Linked DNA regions of Homo sapiens: regions 2 and 3 are each linked to region 1. The links come from fine-mapping of genetic effects on gene expression. A gene starts in region 1. Each other region holds a variant in brackets. All regions are shown on one strand. Distances are from middle to middle. Region 1 holds the start of TMEM225B (transmembrane protein 225B). Region 2 holds the start of ZNF655 (zinc finger protein 655). Region 3 overlaps KPNA7 (karyopherin subunit alpha 7).

What was found.
Region 2: its variant is fine-mapped to the expression of TMEM225B in whole blood (TOPMed, PIP above 0.99). The same link has a PIP of 0.9 or more in blood mononuclear cells.
Region 3: its variant is fine-mapped to the expression of TMEM225B in whole blood (TOPMed, PIP 0.96).

What each region holds. Positions count from the first base shown.
Region 1 is chr7:99,594,630-99,602,814 of GRCh38, forward strand. TMEM225B (transmembrane protein 225B) reads left to right here and starts at 3,638. Exons shown (of 6, transcript NM_001195541.3): 1 at 3,638-3,752; 2 at 5,576-5,656.
Region 2 is chr7:99,557,903-99,566,087 of GRCh38, forward strand. ZNF655 (zinc finger protein 655) reads left to right here and starts at 740. Exons shown (of 3, transcript NM_138494.3): 1 at 740-885; 2 at 2,631-2,793. The coding sequence starts at 2,658. It also overlaps a transcript of FAM200A not described here. RefSeq lists enhancers at 385-514, 545-814. The variant A/T (reference allele first, on the strand shown) is at 4,554.
Region 3 is chr7:99,169,168-99,177,352 of GRCh38, forward strand. KPNA7 (karyopherin subunit alpha 7) reads right to left here. Exons shown (of 11, transcript NM_001145715.3): 11 at 4,405-4,627. The coding sequence ends at 4,541. Among named protein-coding and RNA genes, the nearest start is that of SMURF1, 29 kb to the left of the region's middle. The variant A/ACCAC (reference allele first, on the strand shown) is at 4,791.

The DNA.
Region 1 (8,185 bases):
AAACACTGGATATTATACATATCACAGGGACATTTCATTTGTATCTCTATGTATAAACAGTGGATATTATAAATATCATCGATATTTCATTTATAGCCCTATGTGGAAACACTGGATATTATATATATCACAGCTATATCTCATTTATATCTCTGTGTGGAAACGCTGGATATTATAAATATCACAGCAGGATTTCAACTTTATTCCTGTGTGGGAACAGTGGATATTATAAATATCACAGCGATATTTCATTTATATCCCTTTGTGGAAACACTGGATATTTTAGTATTTCATTCATATCCCTATGTGGAAACACTGGATATTTTAATACTTCATTCATATCCCTGTTTGGAAACACTGGATATTTTAATATTTCATTCATAGCACAGTGCGGAAACACTGCGTAATATAATATTTCATTCATATCCCTGTGTGGAAACACTGAATATTATAATACTTCATTCGTAGCATAGTGTGGAAACACTGGATATTATAATATTTGATTCATAGCACAGTGTGGAAACACTGAATATTATTTCATTCATAGCACAGTTTGGAAACACTGCATAGTATAATATTTCATTCATTGCACAGTTTGGAAACACCGGATATTATAATATTTCATTCATAGCACGGTATGAAAACACTGGATAGTATAATATTTCATTCATAGCACAGTGTGGAAACACTGGATACTATATTTCATACATAGCACAGTGTGGAAACACTGTATATTATAAATGTAACAGCGATATTTCATTAATATCACAGTGTGAAACACTGGATGTCAGTAGTGATATCGATGATGTTACAAACATAACACAGTGTGTTAACACTGCATTATCACCCTGGATGTCAGTAGTAATATCATGGATATTATGAATAATATCACAGGGTGCTAACACAGTGTGTTCACACCCTGGATATCAGTAGTAACATCATAGACATTATGAATAATATCACAGGGTGTTAACACAATGTGTTAACATCTTGGGTATCAGTAGTGGATCAGTATCAGGATATCATCCTGGATATCACAGGGTGATATTATTCATAATATCATGGATATTAATTGTATTAACACCCTGGATATCAATAGTAATACACTGGATATTATGAATAATATCACCGTGTGTTAACAACAGTGGATATCAGTAGTAATATTGTGGATATTAGGAATAATATCACAGTGTGTTAACACAGTGTGTCAACACTGGATATTAGTGATATCATGAAAAATATCACAGTGTGTTAACACTGGACATTAGTAGTAATATCATGAATATTCTGAGTAATATAACAGTGTGTTAACACTGGATATTAGTATTAATATCTAATGTGTGTTAGTAATAATATCACAGATACTATGAATAGTATCACAGTGTGTTAACATAGTGTGTTAACACTGGATATCAGCATTAATATCATGGATATTATGAATAATATGGTATGATAACACAGTGTGCTAACAAACACTGGATATTATGAATATCATAGATAATATTAATATCACAGTGTGCTAACACTGGACACTATGAAGATCATAGATATTAATATCACATTTTGCTAACACAGTGTGCTAACACTGGATATTATGAATATCATATAAATTATTAATATCACAATGTGCTAACACTGTGTTAACACTGGATATTATTATCACGGTGTGCTAACACTGGATATTATTAATATCATTGATATTAACACAACACAGGGTGCAAACACTGGATATTATTATTAGCAAGTCACAGGGTGCTAATACTAGATTTTATTAATATCATATTATTATTAACACATCACAGGGTGCTAACACTTGATATTATTAATATCATAGACATTATTAACACAACACAGGGTGCTAACACTGGATATTTTTAGTATCATAGATATTATTAACATTGCAGTGTGCCAACATTGGAAATTATTAATGTCACAAATATTGGTAATAGCACAGTGTGCTAACACTGGATATTATTAATATCACAGATATTAGTAATATCACAGTGTGTTAATACAGTGTGCTAACACTGGATATCACTAATATGATAGATAATATAGATATTAGTAATATCACAGTGTGTTAACAGTGTGCTAACGCTGGATATTATTAATGTCACAAATATTAGTAATATCACAGTGTGCTAACACTGAATACTATGAATATCATAGATGTTAGTAATACCACAGTGTGCTAACACTGAATATCATTAACATTACAGATATTAGTAATATCACAGTGTGCTACTATTAATATAATAATGTTAATACTATTGACACTATATTAGTAATATAATAGTGTTAACACTGTTATTAATATGAGAGTTAATACTACTAACACTATATTTTTAATATGATAGTGTTAACACTACATTACTAATATGTGTTAACACTATATTATTAATATAATAATGTTAATACTATTAACACTATATTATTAATATAATGGTGTTAGCACTATATTATTAATATAATAGTGTTAACACTATATTATTATTATTATTTGAGACAGAGTCTTGCTCTGTCGCCCAGGCTGGAGTGCAGTGGTGCCATCTCTGCTCACTGCAAGCTCCGCCTCCCAGGTTCACACCATTCTCCTGCCTCAGTCTCCCGAGTAACTGGGACTACAGGCGCCCCCACCACGCCCGGCTAATTTTTTGTATTTTTTAGTAGAGACGGGGTTTCACCGTGTTAGACAGGATGGTCTCGATCTTCTGACCTCGTGATCCGCCTGCCTTGGCCTCCCAAAGGACTGGGATTACAGGCGTGAGCCACCGCGCCCGGCCTAACACTATATTATGAAACACTATATTATTATTATAGTGTAGATACTATTACATTATTAATAGTGTTAACACTATTATCATTAATATAATAGTGTTAATACTATTAACACTTTATTATTATTAATTATAATATTAATATACGAGTGTTATTAATTATTAATATAATTATAATACTGTTAACACTATATTATTAACAATTATTATTAATATAATAGTGTTATTAATATAATATGTGTTAACACTATAATAGTGTTAACACTATATTATATTGTTAATATTATAGTGTTAACACTATTATATGATTAATAGTGTTAATCATGTATTATTAATATAGCAGTGTTAATAGTAACCCTATATTATTAATACAATAGTGTTAATGCTATTAACGCTATATTATTAATATAAGTGTTAACACTCAACACTATATTACTAATATAATAGTGTTAATAGTATATCATTAATATAATAGTGTTAATACTATTAACACCATATTATTAATACTATTATTATTCCCATTTTACAGATTAGAAGCCCAGGACCCAGGAAGGAGACACAGGAAATTTATTCAAAGTCCCCACGCTGGTAATGGCAGAGCTAGGATTTGAATTCAGATCCCTCCCGCTCTCTGTTCCTCCGCCCCCACACACCCGTGAGCGAAGCCGGTACTGTGGGCAGACGCCAGGGCCTGGTTTCCCCACCCTCCACCCGCCAGGTTTGCGGTGGCCGGGGCGGCAGGTAGGGAGGTGAGCCCGCGTCTCCTCCGCAGAGCTGGAGCTGGAGCTCCGCTCAGAGGCCCAGGCTCAGTGGGCTCCTCCCCCGGGTCGGGGCAACCCCCCGCCGGGGCCTCTGGGGCCAACGGAAGCTCCAGGAGCGCGGTGGAGCCTGGAGTGGAGGGCGAGGGTCCCACCGTGACCCGCCTGGAGGGCAGCCCAGCTCTGGGACGCGAAACCGCCTACGACGGTGCCGCAGGTGGAGGGAAGGGTAGAGGGGAGACCAGTATGGGGGAGAGCAAGGTGGCCCCACAGGTTGGGAGAGGATGTGGGGAAGTCCCCCTACCCACCCAAGGCCGAACATCGCCTAACTGGCTGTGGGACGCCCGGGGCAGGGGCTGGGGGCGGATGGCCTGGTTAGGGCCCAGCTTGGGGTCTTGAAAATATCCCTATGGCTTTGGGGCCACAGAAGGGCGGAGTCCTGGCATTCAGGGGAAAGGGCCGAGGACGGTTGTCAACGGGAAGGAACCTCTGACCCTACCCTGGGTCAATGTGCAGTCCAAGTTGCCACAAATGACCGGAGGAAACAGTGGGAAGGGAAGGTCTCTTTCCCATTCCAAACCAGGATGCCCTTCAGGTCGCCCACTTCCTTCATCCCCAGAGCAGCTGCCGACTTTCCTGTTAAGTGCCAGGGCCTGGGAGGTGCGGGGCTGCAGCTCAGGCGCTGAAGGGGGCCTAGGGTCCAGGAACCTCCTGCCAAGCCAGTGGTCCTCAGACGCTGGTCCAGGCACCACCACGGGGTACACAGCTTTTCTTACCTCCTGGTGTTATGGGTCCTTTCTGTTTTTTGAGACGGAGTCTCGCTGTGGCTGTGTCGCCCAGGCTGGAGTGCAGTGGCACGATCTCGCCTCACTGCAAGCTCCGCCTCCCGGGTTCACGCCATTCTCCTGCCTCAGCCTCCTGAGTAGCTGGGACTACAGGCGCCCCCACCACGCCTGGCTAATTTTTTTTTTTTTTTTTTTTTTTGTATTTTTAGTAGAGACGGGGTTTCACCGTGTTAGCTAGGATGGTCTCGATCTCCTGATCTCGTGATCCACCTGCCTCGGCCTCCCAAAGTGCTGGGATTACAGGCGTGAGCCACCGCACCCGGCCCATGGGTCCTTTAAAAAATAATAATTTGGCCAGACGTGGGGCCTCATGCCTGTAATTTCAGCACTTTGGGAGGTAAAGGTGGGAGGATCACTTGAGCCCAGGGGTTGCCTGGGCAACATAGCAAGACCCCATCTCAAAAAAAAAATTAGCCAGGTGTAATGGCATACACCTGTAGTCCCAGCTACTCGGGAGGCTGAGGCAGGAGGATCGCTTGTGCCCAGGAGGCATGAATGCACCACTGCACTCCAGCCTGGGTGACACAAGACCCTGTCTCAAAAAAGAACAACAACAAAAATTTGAATAAAAACCAAACCAGTGACAGTAGATAAGTTGCTTTGTTTTTAATGCTCTTGGCAAAATAAAAAGTTGGCAGTCGTATATTCCCCCATTCTCTCTCTCTTTCTCACACATGCACATGCCTATAAGAAAGCATTCTCTGGATCCACAGAATTCCAGATTTGGGAATCACTGAATTGAACTGCCGGCCATTGGTGGCTGGTGAGACTGTCCTGGCAGTGATGCAGTATTCTGGTCCCTGTGCCAGCACTGATGGGCTGTGGAATCCTCCACCAGTCATTCCCTCTCTCCAGCTCTCCATCTCTGCTTCTGTACAAAAGGATCTACCAATCCCCTCTTATATTCAAATATCTATGACCTTTCAGTCTGGCCTATATCCGTGCGGATCTGAAGTTGTGTATCCGAAGATGTAACCTTGTCCAGTGCTGGCACTAAGGGCTGCTTCAGGGAGGGACCTGGACTGGTGCCCAGGGAAAGGAGGACAAGGTCCTCATCACTGGAGAGTGGAGGGGGCAGTGGGAATGGGACAGATAAGGGGTAGTGCCCTGGGGTATACCTGGCCCCAAAGTAACCCCGGGCTGTGAAGACAAAAGCACTGCATCACATGATGTGTTTCTGTGTCTCTCTCCCTAGCAGTTCCAAGAGCCTCTGAGTTCCTGCCTTTTTTCATCTCTGAATCCCCACCATTGGCCTACATTGGGAGTGGGGCGACCTGTAAGTGCACAGTGAATTTTTGCTGAGGGAGTGGCTGGGAGGGCTGCGTGGAGTGGACAGCACCAAGCTGCACTTTTCAGGGGAGTGGGGTTTGGAAAATCTGGGGAGCAGAACAGGCACCCCCGCCCCCAGGAAGGAACCCAGGTGTATTAGTCTGTTCTCATGCTGCTAATAAAGACATACCCAAGACTGGGTAACTTATAAAGGAAATAGGTTTAATTGACTCGCACCACATGGCTGCAGAGGCCTCACAATCATGGCTGAAGGCGAATGAAGAGCAGAGTCACATCTTTCATGGTGGCTGGCAGGAGAGAGCTTGAGCAGGGGAACTTCCACTTATAAAACCATCAGATCTTGTGAGACTTATTCACTACCACGAGAACCGTATGGGGGAAACTGCCCCCGTGATTCAATTATCTCCACCTGGCCCTGCTCTTGACACATGGGGATTATTACAATGCAAGGTGAGATTTGGGTGGGGACACAGCCAAACCAAATCACCAGGTACAGAGGCCAGAGGAGCCTGGGGATGACGGTGATGTTCCAGGTGTGGAGGGAGACGTGGCAGGCGTGGGGACAGGAAGGTTGGAAGGTTGGGGAACTTTATGAAGGGAAAACTGAGAAGATGAGGAAGGCTGATGAGATGGAAGTGGGGTTGGGGAGAGGGAAGAACCAGCATGAGCTCAAGGCTAGGGTTTGGGTGAAGGAGAGAAAAAAAGGTAGAAAATAAAGGAGACAGAGATCACTTCTAGTCACATACAGGTGGAGATGGGGTAGACAGGAAGAGGTGCCCCCTATCAAATGAGAATGCCCAGTGTACTCCCATCTATACAGAGGACAGGATCAAGATGCAGCCATGACTCCTTCCCATTGAGTTCTAATACTAGAAGGATGCCTCAATGCCCTCTGGTCCAACAGACTTCATCATTTTAGATAGAAGGAAGTGGAAGCCCTGAGGTTGGGGTGACTTGTATGACCTGGAGAGTGGATGGGAGATGGAAAGGGGACATTTAAAGAGAGGGAAGGGCTGGGTGTGGTGGTTCAAGCCTGTAATCCCAACTCTTTGGGAGGCCAAGGCAGGAAGATCACTTAAGCTCAGGAGTTTAAGACACCCTGGGCAACATAGTTAGACCCCTGTCTCTACAAAAAATTAAAAAATTAGCTGGGCGTGGTGGCACGCACCTGTAGTCCCAGCTACTCAGGAGGCTGAGGTGGGAGGATCACTTGTGCCCAGGAGGTTTAGCCTGGGTGACAGAGTGAGACCCTGTATCTAAAAACAAAATATAATAAGGAAAGAAGGGAATAATTCAATTTTTCAAGTGGGAAGAAGAGAAACTAGAGAATGTCAGAAAGGAAGAGAAAGTACAAACATTTTCAAGTCACTCTGACAGCATCGAAGATGAACATGTGTTTACCTGTTTATAACCAGGGTACTTGGGTGTGGGGGGTACAGGAAGGGAGCCACACCTCTGCCCTCTGCCATTAGGCTTGTTCAGCCATAGCCATTGGTAGCTCTCAGAGACGCCCCCTTCCCTGGCTGCAGCAAGTGTCTGCATGGGCAAAGACGCCCCCTTCCCTGGCTGCAGTGAGGGTCTGCATGGGGATTGGGTAGAGGCCCCAGTGTCTGCACTGGGCAAGGTTTGCACAGGGTGTGGGAGCAGGGGAGGAAAGCATGCTCACTTCGAGGGCCTTGTGCTCTCTACTGCCCAGGCACAGCTTGAAAACCGTGATGCTGCCAAGCCCAGCCTGGCACAGGCAAGGGTCCCCAGGTCTGGCTTTGGGTAGGACTTGGAAAGAAAGACTGTCATCTTGGGGTGCACCTCCCTTGTCACATCTTCCTTTCACCTGATGCCCCCTTTCTGCACTGCCAGGTAGCGAGGGTCATCACAGTGCCACCTGGAGGCCTCTGGCCAGGCCCACCCTCCCTGCAGCTCCAATCACCGTCCCTGCTTCCTTCCTTCCCATTGCTGGATAACTCTCATTCCTCAGAGCTGCCAGGCTCAGCACAGACAGAGGGGAAAGCAGATTCGTTGAAACAATTTGTCCTGAAGTTGGGTGTGGCCTCCAGCCCCTTCTCCCACAGGGATATCTGAATTTTAGAAGTCTGCCCTCCATCCCTGCCCTCCCAACTTTAACCAAGCACCTGAGTGCTCAGCACTGTGTTGGACACTTTGGTATGCGTTATTTCATTTGGTCCTCTCAGTGGCAGGTGTTGTATTCTTATCATTGGGCAGGTGTTATAATATATCCTTCCTTATCCTTAGGCAGGTGTTATATCCTTCCTTTTCCAGATGGGGAAAGCAAGGTCCTGAGACTCTGAGCAACTTCCCCAAGATCACACAGCTAGGAAGTGATGAAGCTGAGACAAGACCAGCCAGCACTTACCCACCACGGTGTAACTACTCATTCAAAAGATGACATCTTTTGAAAATTTTTATTCTTTCAGAGACAAGGTCTTGCTTTGTTGCCCAGGCTGGAGTACGGCGGCATGATCATAGCTCACTGCAGTCTCTAACTCCTGGGCTCAAG
Region 2 (8,185 bases), 37 kb before region 1:
TACAAGACATATTCTGTAAGGATCCAGGTTCAGCAAGGTGTCAGAATGTCCTAAGGGTTTCTGTCCCGGCGCTCTGCCTGTCCCGCTTGTGCACAATGCTTTTGCCTATCCCTGTTTCTGCATAGATTTTAGTCTTCCCACCAGGGACGCAACTGTCAGTTTCCTCCGTCTCTCTCGGTTCTATTCCAATCTGCTCATCTCCCCTCCCGTCCCCGCTTTCCCCAAGGACCTACTGAGATTTCGATCCCACAACTTAGTGGGTCCCATCTCACCCAGGCCCCGCAATCCTCGCCTTCTACTTGTCAGCGTTGTACTACACTCTGAGCAGGCACCCCTGTGCTACTCACGGAAGCGGGACCATTAGGTCGGCCATTCCTCCTCACCCCACGACACGCACCCACTGGGTCGGGCCGCCTCCTTGCAGGGAGTCTCAAGGATGGGCTGGCGTCAGGGAGGGGCCCAGGGGGCGCTTTCCCAACACTGGTCGCAGTCATTGTTGGTATAACGGCTAGAGACGCCCAGTGAGTTAGCATGGAGGGCAGTGGGACCGGAAAAAGACGTGGAAAAGCTGCGAAAACGAGCCTTCGAATCATGGACGCGCGGGCCCAGCTCCTCCTCCGAGTTCCTCATCCGGGGCCGTCACTCACATCCGGGGCCCTCACTCACATCCGGGACCCTCATCCGGGGCTCTCACCCACATCCGGGACCCTCATGCCTGGGCGGAGGAGGGGGGGCCCTCATTCGGGACCCTGCACTCCGTCGCCGGAAGTGCCACCGAGAAGCGCCGGCCTCGGGGCTGTCTACAGCGGCCCGGGAGAGGCTGTGGTGGCCCCGAGCGCGAGTGTGTAGGTGACAGGACAGCGGCCAGGCCCGCCCCTCCCCTCGGTGAGTACCCGGAAGCCGTTTTGGGGTCGCAGCGGGGTGGCAGCTTGTTTTGCCTTCACGGGAGTAGAAGGAGGCGGCGTCCGGCCGCGGCCGACGGTAGTTCGCTTCCCCGAGAGTGCGCGGAGGCCCGGGTGCGAGGAGGGCCTGTTTCTCTTCAGCCCTGGTTCATTCACCTCGCGGACCGAGGGCCCCGCCGTCAGGAGCCGGCGACCGTGCCCTGGTGCGAGCTGGTCTGTATGTCCTCACTGGTCCTTTTGGGACTTTGCCTTGGCCTAAAAGGGAAGTGGGAGGAGGGCAGCGCCGGGCAAGGCCTTCTGAGGACCGAGCTGGGAGCCGGGCAGGGGCCCAGGGCGAGGGTGGTGGGAGGGGGACGGCACCCTCATGCGTCCTTGGGCCTGAAGGACGCCGCTCAAACCTGTTCGAACCGCAGCTCTTACCTGCGTTGCTCTCAGGATTCCGGGAAAAGGCCGGTCTAGCTGGTCTGAGTTAGCGAAGGGCCTGACCCCAAAAGTGGAGTTTTATTCGCCAAGCCCGTGTAGTAAATCGGAGTGGGCTGACGGTGTTACCAAGACATTTCCTAGGGGGCCTGCTGTTTTATTTATTTAAATGAGTTTATTTACGTAAACGCGGGCCTGTCACGGTGGTTCACGCCGTAATCCCCGCACTTTGGGAGGCCGAAGTGGGAGGATCGCTTGAGGCCAGGCGTTCGAGTCCAGCCTGGGCAACATAGCGAGACTCCCATCTCTGCTAAAACAAAATTAAAATAAAATGAGCAATCATAACTAGCATTTTTCTCTGGGCACCAACTTGAGCCTCCAAAGACGATTGTAAATTTTAAATATTTTGTTTTGTTTATTTGAGGTGGGCTGTCACGCTGTCATACAGGCTGGAATGCAGTGGCGCAGTCATAGCTCACTGCAGCCTCTACCTCCCAAGCTCAAGCGATTCTCCTGCCTTGGCCTTTGGAGTAGCTGGAACTACAGGCCTGGGCCACCTAATTTTTTTTTTTTTTTTTTTTTTTGTAGGGACGGGGTTTCACCATGTTGTCCAGGACGGTCTGGAACTCCTGAGCTTAAGGGATCCACCCGTCTGTGCCTCCCAAACTGTTGGGATTACAGGCTTGAGCCACCGCACGTGGCCAATTTTAAATATTTTAAAGTTTCCACAGAAAGCTTTACACTATTAAATTGTACCGTGTTAATTTTTTTAATGCCACAAATTCCAAATTAGAGACTCTTCTATGATTTGGTTCTTAAGTATTTAAAGCTGAAGCATATCCATATTTCTTTTTCTTTTTTTTCTTTTTTTTTTTTTTGGGACGGAGTCTCACTGTGTTGCCCAGGTTGGAGTGCAGTGGTGCAATCTTGGCTCACTGCCACGTATGCCTTCTGTATTCAAGCAATTCTCCTGCCTCAGCCTCCCGAATAGCTGGGATTACAGACCCGCACCACCACGCTGGCTAATTTTTGTATTTTTAGTAGAGAAGAAGTTGCACCATGTTGATCAGGCTGGTCTTGAACTCCTGACCTCAAGTGATCTTCCCGCCTCAGCCTCCCAAAGTGCTGGGATTACAGGCCACTGCGCCTGGCCCCATTTTTCTGTTACTTATTTAGGGTGGTTAATCATTATCAACTAATTTTTATTGAATATCCATAGTGTGTAAGATCCTTTGCAAAGTCCTGACGATATAAAATGATGAAATGCTTTAACTTATTACAGTAATTTCTCTTAATCTTACCTTGCAGTGATGGTCATTGTCCTCCAGAGCAGTGATGGAGGAAATACCAGCCCAGGAAGCAGCAGGGTCACCAAGGGTCCAGTTTCAGTCTTTGGAGACCCAGTCTGAGTGTCTGTCCCCAGAGCCTCAGTTTGTGCAGGACACCGACATGGAACAGGGACTCACTGGGGGTAAGGCAGAGAAAGCACTTCCGTCTGGGAGAGTGGGAGTGCGGAGGGGCTCCCGAGGGGGCTCCTGGGCCTGGTTTGAGAGAGGCCAAGAACTGGAATAAGAACATGGTCCCTAGAGGGAGGAATGAAAGAGGGGGCAGATGTGACTCAGTTCAGTCCTAGTCTGAGCCCCTTTATTAAGGATAGCTCATCTTTCTCAAATAAGCAGAGTGATGGCTGCTTACTCGCTGTGGTGGTTTTTCCTTCAGGCAACCTTCACTTCATCCCAGTTCTCACATCCAGAATAATTTCTAAGATATGCTGCTTTTGCCACATCTCACAGTCCTTTCCTGGCTCTCACTTCCTCTTAGGTTCAGGACCTTTCTTTCCCCTGTTCCCTTCACTTAGTTTTTCTTTGCTTTGTCACCTGCCATCCATTCTGTTGTAACTGCAGTGTTTTGTGACTAGACTAAATTTGGTCAAGGAAGCAACCATTTAATTCCTTGGTTGAACACAATGCCTGTATGAATGTATATATACTGTATTTTGACTACGCAGTCACACTTTGCTGTATCGTATAGGTAGGTTGGTCTTTTTCTTCCTTTGTTTTATAAGAGCTGTGTCTTAGATTGCCTGTGGTTAACTCTAGTGCCTGAAATAACTTGTGTGTCACCCACACAGATCAAGTGCCACAATGTGTAGAGTGCTGTGGGGGATTGTGGGACTGTGGAAAAGATTTCGAGGAAACAGATGACCCTTTCTTGTTCTTGGGGGCCTTACACACTGGTTGAGACAGCACCCATTCACAAGAGAAACGCTGATCAAGTGTCTAGAACAGTGCCTGGAAAGGGTCAGAAGTCTGCTAAATAACCCTAGCCCAGGACAAGTCCCCACAAGTCTTTATGCTTTGCTTTGCCCATCTGCAAAACAGGTATAGTCTTACTCTTCTGTAAGAGGACTGTCATGTGATGAAGATAAAGTGAAATACAAGCTTTCCTAAGAAAATCCTGTATCACAGGTCAAAACACGCATAAGGCATGCAAGTACTGAGACGAAGCAGAGTAGACACACCCAATACCTGAAAAATGTTCATTGGTTTTACTAGAGTATTGAGGAGGGTCCTGCTGACACCCCTTGGGCTGGAGAGGCCTCCTCTGAAAGGGAGCCCTGGGAAAGGGCTGCTCTCACTCTTCACTCCTTTCTCCTCCCTCAGCTCCACCTGTTCCTCAGGTGCCTGCTCTTCCCCGTGAGGGAAGCCCAGGAGACCAGGCAGCTGCGCTCTTGACAGCCAGGTACCAGGTGAGCTGAGGAACCCTCTGCTTTTCCTCAGGGACTATTGCTACTGATGGAGTGTGGCCTCTCTCTCATCCCATCTGTAGACCTTGCCTGGAATTTTTTTCAATAGCAGACTCCAGTTTGGGAATTGATCCTCTTCGGAGACCTGGACTTCACATAAACCAACTTCCCATCTCCCCAGTGCCATGAGCAAACTCTGTTTTCTCTTTGTCCATGGTTGTGTGATGGGTGCTTATTAGATGTTTAAGGGTTATGGGCTTTATTCCGTAGGTTCTAATCTGTTCTCCCTCCTCCTCAACGTAAGTACACAGTGGATACCCTCTCTATGATCTTCATTCTCTGGCCATGGTGCTACAGTGTTCTCATTCCTCAGAGCAGCCAGGATGTGTTATTTCAGGAGTTTGTGACATTCGAGGATGTGGCTGTGCACCTTACTCGAGAGGAATGGGGATACCTGGACCCTGTTCAGAGGGACCTCTACAGAG[A/T]AGTGATGTTAGAGAATTATGGGAACGTGGTCTCACTGGGTAAGGACTTCCTTATTATTCGGTTTATCTATTTGAATTTCTTTACTTTCTTGTTTCTTCCTAAGTATAAGGTCTCTGAGAAGGTCTGTAGAGTGTGGCTTAGATTCCAGGACTTAGAACCTCTGAATCCTTATCTTTCACATCGTCTTCTCCGGGAGGGGTAATTAACGTTTGTTTGGGGGTGCCAAGAAGAGACATTCTCCTCCTTATCCCCAGTTCATGTTTATGGCCATTGTGGGGCATCTTTTCCCTTTTAGCAAAGGGAAACTTTCTTGTGCTTTGCTTGATTTCTCACCGTTCTTTTCTTTTCCATTTTTGTAGGAGAGACCCCAGGGTGGCCTCCCAACCTCCAACCAGACACTTTCCTCTTTGTTATCTCAGTGTCCCTGTATTAGAGAATTGAAGAATTTCCCATTTTTCTAGGAAAAAGAAATGCCGTTTATTTAAAAAGACAGGCTAAATTCCTTCTTGTTGAGTAGTCCCTCACCCCTTAAGATCCCCAGATGTATCTCCAAGCAGGCAGAACTTGAGATGTCATTTGAAGGCATGACTCACTGTGAGTACATTTCAGTGAGTCACCCAGAATGGTAATCCCACGTAACCACACCCAGGGCAGCAGAAATCTCAGATGTTTACCCCATGCTGAGGTGGGGTCAATGCTTAACTCATGTCTCTCCCTTGTCATTTTGAAAGGTACAGTGGGAAGCTGGGATTAGCCAAGCTGTAGTGCTGCTGGGAAGCATCAGTGGGGTTTGTCGGCAGCTCCCTTGGTGTGAGCATTGTTCCTTTTTCTTTAGTTTATTTTTTATATTATATTATATTTTTTATTTTATTTTATTTTTAGATGGAGTTTCACTCTTGTTGCCCAGGCTGGAGTGCAGTGGTGCAATCTCAACTCACTACAACCTCTGCCTTCCAGGTTCAAGCGATTCTCCTGCCTCAGCCTCCCAAGTAGCTGGGATTACAGGCATGGGCCACCACGCCCGCCTAATTTTGTATTTTTAGTAGAGACGGGGTTTCACCATGCTGGTCAGGCTGATCTCGAACTCTTGACCTCAAGTGATCCACCTTCCTTGGCCTCCCAAAGTGCTGGAATTACAGGCATGAGCCACCGCACCCAGCCTCCTTTTTCTTTAGTTTCTTGCTTGCTTCTGCACTCTTCTTTTTGTGTGTGTAAATACTGAATCATGCATTTTCTTTTCTTTTTTTTTTTTCCGTTGGCTTTGTCTATGCTGGTGGCATCCAGGGCATTGCTTTGTCTCCCTGATTATGCTCAGGATTCAAGGTCTTCTTATTTGTGGGGAGGCAGGCTGCCCACTGGGACGGTTTTTAGTGTGTTTTCCATTCCTGGCTCTTTAATCTTTGTAGGCATACTTCTCCGCCTTCCCACCACCCGGATTCATAGTGTGAATTCCTGCCCGGCCCTGAGTCATACCCAGGCAAGTGCTTTCTCTGGAGAAACACTTGCCGTCCTTACAGCAGGAATCTCCAAGAGATGGCCCAAGTATCGGCTTCCCATCGATATTGCTCGTCCCTGCTCGGAAACTCCTTTTCCACGATTGTGAGATATTAAAATTGACTGATGGAATAGAAGCTCCCCAGGATGCCACCACTGTGTAAAATCGCAGCTCCTCAAATTACCTCTGTTTAATTTCAAATGTTAGGGTCCAAGGAAGCCCTCTGTTGCAACCAGATATGTTTTGAACCCAGTTCATTCAGAAACCATGGTTGGTGGTCATCATCTACTTGTATTGTGAAAAACCAGAAATTCCAAATTCAGCTCTTCAGTTATGGTCTTTTCATATTATTTTAGAATGTGAAACTTATGCTGTGTGCCCCTCCTTTTATGTGGCGAACACAACCTGCCCCGTATGGTGCCTAACTCTCCTGTGAACCCTGGGCTTCCCTCATGTTTAACATTCTGGTTTCCTCCTTCCTTGAAGTCCCTGTGGCCCTCTTCAAGGTCCTACCTTCCTACCCTTTATTCTTTGTGGTTCTGTACAGATTGATGCAATTATATTGCCTTTCCTGATTAAGTGTTCCTTACTCTGTCCTTGATGGAGGGGAGAAGGGAGGGCAAAGAAGTTAAATTTATTTCAGGGCATCAAATTGAATATCTACTTAATAACTTTGTAAACTGTAAAGTGACATACATATAATTGTAAAGTACTGTTAATTTTATCTAATAATTACAGAGTTTCCAACAGTTAACCTGTCTACTTTTTGGAGTAAAGAAACTTTGTAGCAGTTTAATGCAGTCTAATAGCATAGTATGCTATAGACTGAACTTTATCCCATTTCCTCTCTTATCTCTGCACTGCACACTCGACATGCAGTCGACATGCATACACACTTTTACACATACAAGAGACACGCACAGTGCAAGAAAGCCTTCTACTCATCTTGCTTTTGTGATCAAGTTAGCAGCATCTCCTTAGCAGTTATTTTTACAATCCTTGGGAAATCATTTTCATATTTTTGGGTTCAGCAGACTTCATCTGAAAATTAACCCATTTATGCCTAGTGTTCCATTATTGGAACACTAAGCTTGCGGGAATTATTTATGTCCCGCTGCTCAAGGTCATCGCCAAGGTCTGATTTTTAACAAAAATTGCAACCTCCAGCATAACTGGGTTAAGTTTATACATTTATTAATTTAACTTTTTAGGGTTGTAAGACTTTTTTTTTTTTTGAGACGGAGTCTTGCTCTGTTGCCCAGGCTGGAGTGCAGTGGCACCATCTCTGCTCACCGCAAGCTCCACCTCCCGGCTTCATGCCATTCTCCTGCCTCAGCCTCCCAAGTAGCTGGGACTACAGATGCTCGCCACCATGCCTGGCTAATCTTTTCGTATTTTTAGTAGAGATGGGGTTTTGCCATCTTAGCCAGGATGGTCTCGATCTCCTGACCTCGTGATCCGCCTGTCTCGGCCTCCCAAAGTGCTGGGATTACAGGTTGTGAGCCACTGCGCCTGGCCTCCAGATTGTATTTGTCACAGACATTAGAACGTTGGTCCTTTGCTTAAGTGCTTCCACTATGCAGCAGTAAATATACAGAGTACAAATAGCTGAGTAAAGAAGTCGGTAATAAGTAATTTTCGTTACCACATAATTGAAAAAAGAACATACTCCATTGATGATGAATGAACAATTTGCCTCTGGGTCACTATCCATAGGGAAGTTACCTGTTACTTAGTGTGGTAGATTAAGACCCATAAAGGGGACCGAGTTGCTTTTCACATGGGTAAGTGTGGCAGGTGCCCTATTAGATGATGGCCTCAGAAGCATGCTTGTTAAAATTCTAATTGATATTAACTGGGTCAGTAGATTGGGAATGTTTGGCACATACTCTCTGCTTTTTTAACTTGATGTCATGAAGGACTACAGTTATTTTGCACAGAATGTTTTCCATTGTCACAGCTATTTAGTATTTATTGAGCAGCCAATATGTTATTGGGTACTATATATATGTATGTATACACACACACACACATATGTATATACACACACACAGACATAGGACATTTATATGTGTGTGTGTGTGTGTGTGTATATATATATATAAAGGATATGTGTATATATCTCATTTAATCCTT
Region 3 (8,185 bases), 430 kb before region 1:
TTTAAAATAATGTAAACTGAAACAATTTTATTGGAATTTTAGCCCCCAGGCTGAAAGCTTGGCAGGTCCCTGAGAAGGTAGGTGTAAGGACTCTGGACTTGGGGAGGACAGCATCTGAGGGAGCAAAACTGAGAAAAATGAGTATTTTGCTTACTGAACAACCTGACCTTGGCTGGGTACAGTGGCTCACGCCTGTAATCCCAACACTTTGGGAGGCCGAGGTGGGCAGATCACTTGAGGTCAGGAGTTCAAGACCAGCCTGGCCAACATGGTGAAACCCTATCTGTACTAAAAATACAAAAATTAGCCAGGCATGGTGGGGCACGCCTGTAATCTCAGCCACTCAGGAGGCCGACAGGAGAATCGCTTGAACCTGGGAATGGAGGTTGCAGTGAGCTGAGATTGCACCACTGCACTCCAGCCTGGGCGACAGAGCATGATTCCATCTCAAAAATAGATAAATAACCTGACCTTGTTCCTGTGCCCTGCCCAGAGAATGGAAGGAGGGAAGCATAAGTCTCACAAATGAATGGTTGAAGGACTCCTCTTTAGGAAAACTAACCAGCCCATGAAAAAAGATCTGCAGCTCTGGGCCAGGCGCAGTGGCTCACGCCTGTAATCCCAGCACTTTGGGAGGCCGAGGTGGGCGGATCACTTCAGGTCAGGGATTCAAGACCATCCTGGTCAACATGGTGAAACCCTGTCTCTACTAAAAATACAAAAATTAGCCGGGCATGGTGGCTTGTACCTGTAATCCCAGCTACTTGGGAGGCTGAGGCAGGAGAAGTCACTTGAACCCAGGAGGCGGAGGTTGCAGTGAGCAGAGATTGTGCCACTGTACTCCAGCCTGGGTGACAGAACAAGACTGTCTCAAAAAAAAATCTGCAGCTCTGATCGTTGGGATCACTTGTTGGAATGGCCAGGTTTCTGTGGGGTCACCCAGCAGATATCCACCAATGACAGGCCCCGCTCACAGCCTGAGGACCTTTCTATTACAAGCAGAGATCCAAGGACATCAGACATCTGATGGAAGCCTTTGCCATAGGCACACCAAACTAACAACAAACACCCCCCCAAGAATCAATGCATAAACAAAGCTAGGTCGATAGCACAGATAGGATCTTGCGCTAATGAAGAAGGAGGCTTGAAAAGGGAAGCCTGTGAAAACAAAGTGTCTCGAATTAAGTGACTGCAGAAATGAAAAGCCTGGAAGAAGAGATAAAGTAGAATACCCCAGAAAGTAAAAAATAAAGATGGAAAATAGAGAATGGGACAAGAAAATGAGAGGATCCGTTTCAGTGGGAAAAAAAAATGGTGGTGGCAGGGGAGATAATTCTATTTTTTTCTTTTTCTTTTTAGAGATGGGGTCTTGCTATGTTGCCCAGGCTGGTCTCAAACTCCTGGACTCAAGGGGTCCTCCCACCTCAGCCTCCCAAAGTGCTGGAATTATAGGCGTGAGCCACTGTTCCAAGCTGTTTTTTAAAAATTAAAAGGACAATTCTAGACTGCAAGGCTGATACTTGGATGTACAGAAAATAGGTTTCTATTCAGGACAGCACATTTAAGAATACTGGAGACACAACCTACAAATTTCAGTCAGTAGAGTTGAGACAGGGGAAGAGAGTCATGCACAAAATAATTGGCAATCAGAGTAGAAGACTTTGAACCCAACACTGAAAACTAGAAGATAATGATCGATGCTTGCAACATTCTGAAGGTCATAGTTTCCAGTCTAGAACACTTGTCTGCAGCTGGATTGTCAACCAGGAGTCAAAACAAAGTCCATGTTTTCAAAGGCCAGGTGCGGTGGCTCACACCTGCAATCCCACTGAGGTCAGGAGTTCAAGACTAGCCTGTTCAACATGGTGAAACCCCGTCTCTACTAATAAAAAAAATACAAAAATTAGCTGGGCGTGTTCGCGGGCGCCCGTGATCCCAGCTACTCGGGAGGCTGAGGCAGGAGAATCGCTTGAACCCGGGAGGTGGAGGTTGCAGTGAGCCAAGATCGTGCCACTGCACTCCAGTCTGGGTAACAGAGCAAGACTCTGTCTCAAAAATAAAAATAAAAAATAAAGTACATGTTTTTGGATGAGCAGTGTCTGAAATTTAACCTCCCATGCACCTTCTCTCAGAAGATACATATTAAAAGCCAGTGGGTCTCAGTGGCTCACGCCTGTAATCCCAACACTTTGAGAAGCCAAGGCAGCAGGATCGCTTGATCCCAGGAATTCAAGGTCAGCTTCCCTGTTTCCTGGATCCCATGCCTACCTCCTCATGCGATCGTTTGTTTTGGAGATGGGGTCTCACTTCATAGCCCAGGCTGGAGTGCAGTGGCACCATCATAGCTCACTGCAGCCTCCAACTCCCTGGCTCAAGCAATCCTCTCGCCTTGGCTTCCCAAAGCCAAATTAATTAAAATTTTAAAAGCCAAATTAATTAAACAATTAGCTGGGCATAGTGGCACACATCTGTAGACCCAGCTACTCAAGAGGCTGAGGCGGGAGGATTGCTTTAGCAAGGCTGCCCTGAGCTGAGCTGTGATGGTTCCACTGCACTCCAGCCTGGGCGACAGAGTAAGACCTTGTCCCTAAAATAAAGGGGAAAACAAGCACAGGCAGGTGTGAGATCCTGCAAACAGGGACACTGACCCAGGAAAAGTGAGTGGAGCCCCCACAATGATGGTAAAAGCCGATCCCAGGACAATAGACGTGTACCAGAGGATGAGGACAACTATTCCAGGCTGGAGCATGACAGAGCTCTCCAGTGGGTGTGGATGACAAGCATGTTGGTAGATTACTGACGTATTACATTCAGCAGGAGGTTTACACAGGCTGTAAGAATTTGATATGAGGTAAACCCAAGGAAAACAAAGCATATGAGTGAAGATGTGGATTAATACTAAGGAAAACACACTTCTGAATATAATTTACATCATTATGATAAAATCTGGACATCAAGCTAACAAAAATTAGATATCTACGATGCGAAGAAAGGGAGGTATAAAAAAATGGCTATCTCTTCTGTAAATTCGAACATCGTCTTTAGATGTAGCATGAGCATAATGTTTAGAATTACAAAAGCATAGACTAGAATAAACAGACCAAAGAGTAGAAAGTTCTGGCCTCTGGGGATGGGGTGGAAGAGGCATGGGTCCTCCTTTGCTTTAAATATCTATAGCTCTGTAAAATATGTACATTGTATCAAAGTTCATTTAAGTTATAAAAATTAAGTATACAAGAAAGTCATGGTTCAAAAATAATATGTAGGCCAGGTGCGGTTGCTTATGTCTGTAATCCCAGCACTTTGGGAGGCTGAAGTGGGAGGACCATTTGAGGCCAGGAGTTCAAGACTAACCTGACCATAGTAAGACCCCATCTCTACAGAATTCTTTAAAAGGTTAGCTGCATGTGGTGGTGCTGCCTTGAAATATAGAAACACACACGCACTCTCTTTCTTTCTAGGAAGAATAAGAGAGATTGAGTTTCTAGAGAAAATTATCTTAGATCTTGTCAGTGTCAGGATATTAATTGCCAGAGGAAAGAAGGCCAGTAACACTGTCCCTGCAGCACTAAGAACCAATGATATTGTATCTGCAAGTCGAAGTCTGTGTAGAGACCAGGCATGTTGGCTCACGCCTGTAATCCCAGCACTTTAGGAGGCTGAGACATGTGGATCACCTGAGGTCATGAGTTTGAGACCAGCCTGGTCAACATGGTGAAACCCTGTCTCTACCAAAAATACAGAAATTAGCCCAGCATGGTGGCAGGCACCTATAGTCCCAGCTATTTGGCAGGAGAGGCAGGAAAATCACTGGAACCTGGGAGACGGAGGTTGCAGTGAGCCTAGATCACATCACTGCACTCCAGCCTGGGTGACAAGACCGAAACTCCATCTCAAAAAAAAAAAAAAAAAAAAAAGAAAAAGAAAAAGTCTGTCCGGATAACTATAAGACCATTCTACTCTGTCTTGAAGGTTTTGCTTTAAGACCTTTTAAAAGGCAATTACTAAACAAATGTTCTTTATTTTTTATTATTTTTTTTGAGAAGGAGTTTCACTCTTGTTGCCCAGGCTGGAGTACAATGGCTCCATCTCAGTTCACTGCAACCTCCGCCCTCCTGGGTTCAAGCAATTTTCCTGCCTCAGCCTCCCAAATAGCTGGAATTACAGGCATGCGTCACCATGCCTGGCTAATTTTTTGTATTTTTAATAGAGACGGAGTTTCACTGTGTTGGCCAGGCTGGTCTCAAACTCCTGACCTCAGGTGATCCACCCACCTTGGCCTCCCAAAGTGCTGGGATTACAGGTGTGAGCCACCACACCCAGCCTAAACAAATGTTCTTAGGAGATGAATTCCACATGGTTTTAAGATGCAAGTCGTTTATCTGAAGTTCAGATAGAGAAACGTGAAAGTGTTGAACATTTTATTAATGTCAAGTTTTAAAAGCTTCACATTTGGGTTACACTAAGATAGAGGACTGCTGCTTCTTAAAGAAGTTATCCTTTAGCACTGGGTTGTTGGTTTAGGAGGTAGGGAGCTTGGCTATTTTTTTGCTAAGCATTCATAATCTATAAATTCATAATCTTGGTCTATGACTTGGCTCAGTAAAGTTTGGCTCTCATCTTCTTCCTTCAGGAGAGAATAGACACTGTTATACCTCCAGGATTCTCAGCACATTATCACTGCACATTTGGCAAGATGCACCTTGTAACAAAATTGACCCTCTTAACCATGTTTAAGCAGGTAGCTTAGTAGCAATTAAGTACATTCGCATTGTTGCGCAACCATCACC[A/ACCAC]CCACCCACCTCTAGAACTTTTTCATCTTGCACAACTGAAGCTTTGTACCTATTGCATCAGGGGTCCCCAACCCCGCATCCGTGGCCTATTAGGAACTGGGCCACACAGCAGAAGGTGAGCAGCAGGCCAGCAAGCGAAGCTTCATCTGTATTTACAGCCACTCCCCATCACTCGCATTCCCACCTGAGCTCTGCCTCCCTGTCAGACCAGCAGCAGCATTAGATTCTCATAGCAGCACAAACCCTATTGTGAACTGCGCATGCCAGGGAACCAGGCTGCATGCTCCTTATGAGAATCTAGTGCCTGATGATCTGTCAACTGTCTCCCATCACCCCCAGATGGGATCGTCTAGTTGCAGGAAAAGATCTCAGGGTTCCCACTGATTCTGCATTACGATGAGCTGTATAATTATTTCATTATATATTACCATGTAGTAATATAAAGTGCACAATAAATGTAATGCTCTTGAATCATCCCGAAACCATCCCCTCACCCCCCAGCCTGTGGAAAATTTGTCTTTCACAAAAACTGGTCCCTAGTGTCAAAAACGTTGGGATCACTGTATTTAATCACTCCTCATTCCCTCCTCCACCCAGCACCTGGCAACCACCATTCTACTTTGTCTCTACAGATTTGATGACTGCAGGTACCAAATCTAAGTGGAATCGCATTGTATTTGTCCTTTTGTGAGTAGCTTGTTTTTAAATGCAGTTTTGATAGACATAGAACACCGTCCTGACAATGAGTAAGCAAATGATAGGTATAGTTACTACTTCTAGTCCAGAAATCTTTACCCTGGAGTTCTTGGATCAAGCCCCAGGGATCAAACCCCCTTTAAAAGAGGTCTCTTATTTATTATTTTTTTTTTTTGAGATGGAGTCTTACTCTGTCGCCCAGGCTGGAGTACAGTGGCATGATTGCAGCTCACTACAACCTCTGCTTTCTGGGTTCAAGTGATTCTGCTGCCTCAGCCTCCTGAGTAGCTGGGATTATGAGCACCCGTCACCACACCCAGCTAATTTTTGTATTTTTAGTAGAGATGGAGTTTCACCATGTTGGCCAGGCTGGTCTCGAACTCCTGACCTCAGGTGATCCACCCGCCTTGGCCTCCCCCAAAGTGCTGGGATTACAGGTGTGAGCCACTGCACCCAGCTGAGCTTCTTATTTATGAGGTTTTCATAGGAACCATTAACCTGGAAAATGCTTATCACCATTATCACCATTCTAGGTCTGGTCTCCTTTGAGAGCATTTTTTTTCTATTTTAAGACAGTCTCGTGCTATTGCCCAGGTTGGAGAGCAGTGGCACAATCACAACTCAAGCAATCCTCCCACTGTAGCCTCCCGAGTAACTGGGATTACAGGCACATGCCATTACACCTGGCTAATTTTTGTATTTTTTGTAGATATGGGCTCTCACTGTGTTGCCCAGGCTGGTCTCGGAGCTCCTGGACTCAAGCAATCCACCTGTCTTAGCTTCCCAAAGTGCTGCAATTATAGGCATGAGCTACCACACCTGGCTTGAGAGCTTTATTTATTTATTTATTTATTTATTTATTTATTTATTATTTATTTTGGAGATGGAGTTTTGCTCTGTTGCCCAGGCTGGAATACAGTGGCACCATCTTGGCTCACTGCAACCTCTGCTCTGGGGTTCAAGCTATTCTCCTGCCTCAGCCTCCTGAGTAGCTGGGATTACGGGCACAAACCACCACACCCAACTAATTTTGTATTTTTAGTAGAGACAGGGTTTCGCCATGTTGGCCAGGCTGGTCTTGAACTCCTAACCTCGTGATCCATCTGCCTCAGCCTCCCAAAGTGCTGAGATTACAGACATGAACCACTGCTCCCAGCCGAGAGCATCATCTTGGTCCCAAATCAAGACTAACTGCCCCAGCTAACCACACCATCCACCTGGTCATATTGATTGTATGGTCCTTTATTTTGCTGGTAAGTCACCTTTGACACCTAAGAGAAGTGTCACTCTGTAAACTCCTAGCCCCATGTTGATCTGGTCATGAAATAAATGTGAGGTTGCCTTCCTCATATGAAAAATTTCTGCTGGGCGTGGTGGCTCACGCCTGTAATCCCAGCACTTTGGGAGGCCCGAGGCAGGCGGATCACGAGGTCAGGAGATCAAGACCATCCTGGCTAACACGGTGAAACCCCGTCTCTACTAAAAGTACAAAAAATTAGCCGGACATGGTGGTGGGCGCCTGTAATCCCAGCTACTTGGGAGGCTGAGGCAGGAGAATGACGTGAACCCAGGAGGTGGAGGTTGCAGTGAGCCAAGATCGCGCCACTGCACTCCAGCCTGGGCAGCTGAGCGAGACTACGTCTCAAAAAAAAAAAAAAAGAAAGAAAGAAAGAAAGAAAAGAAAAATTTCTGATATAAGTGCAAATCAAACCACAATGAGATACCACTTTATACCCATGAGATTAGCTATTACCAAAACACCTAGAAAATAACAAGTGTCGGCAAGGGTGTGGAGAAATTGGAATCCTCATGCATTGTTGGTAGGGATGTGAAATGGTATATCTACTGTGGAAAAGAGCGTGGTAGTTCTTCAAAAATTCAAAATGGAATTACCACGTAATCTAGCAATTCCACTCTAGGTATATACTCCAAAGAATTGGGCCAGGTGCGGTGGCACAGACCTGTAATTCCGGCACTTTGGGAGGCCGAGACGGGTGGCTTGCTTGAGCTCAGGAGTTTTAGACCAACCTAGGCAACATGGTGAAACCCCATCTCTACAAAAAAAATACAAAAGTTAGCTGCCGGCATGGTGGTGCATGCCTGTAGTCCCAGCTACTTGGGAGCCTGAGGTGGGAGGATTGCTTGAGCCCAGGGAAGTCAAGGCTACAGTGAGCAACCATTGCGGCCATTGCCTTCCAGCCTGGGTGACAGAGCAGGACCCTGTCTTTACAAACAAAAAAAAATTGGAAGCAGGGACTCTAACAGGCTTACACACCCATGTTCATAGCAGTGTATTCACCATAGCAAAATGGTAGAAGAAACTCACATGTCGATTGACAGGTAAATGAATATATATAATGCAGCATATACATTCAATGGAGTGTTAGCCTTAAAAAGGAAAGCAATCCTGACATGCTACAACACGGATGAATCTTGAAGATGGTATGCCAAGAGGAAATATATCAGTCACAAAAGGACAAATACTGTACAATTCCACTCATGAGGTCCCTAGAATAGTCAAATTCATAGAGACAGAAAGCAAAATGATGGTTACTAAAAGGGCTAGGGGAAAGGTGTGTTGGGGACTTTGTAGTTAACGGGTAGGGAGTTTCAGTTTGGGAAGATAAAAACTGTTGTGGAGACGGGCCGGGTGTGGTGGCTCACGCCTGTGATCCCAGCACTTTGGGATTACGCCAAGG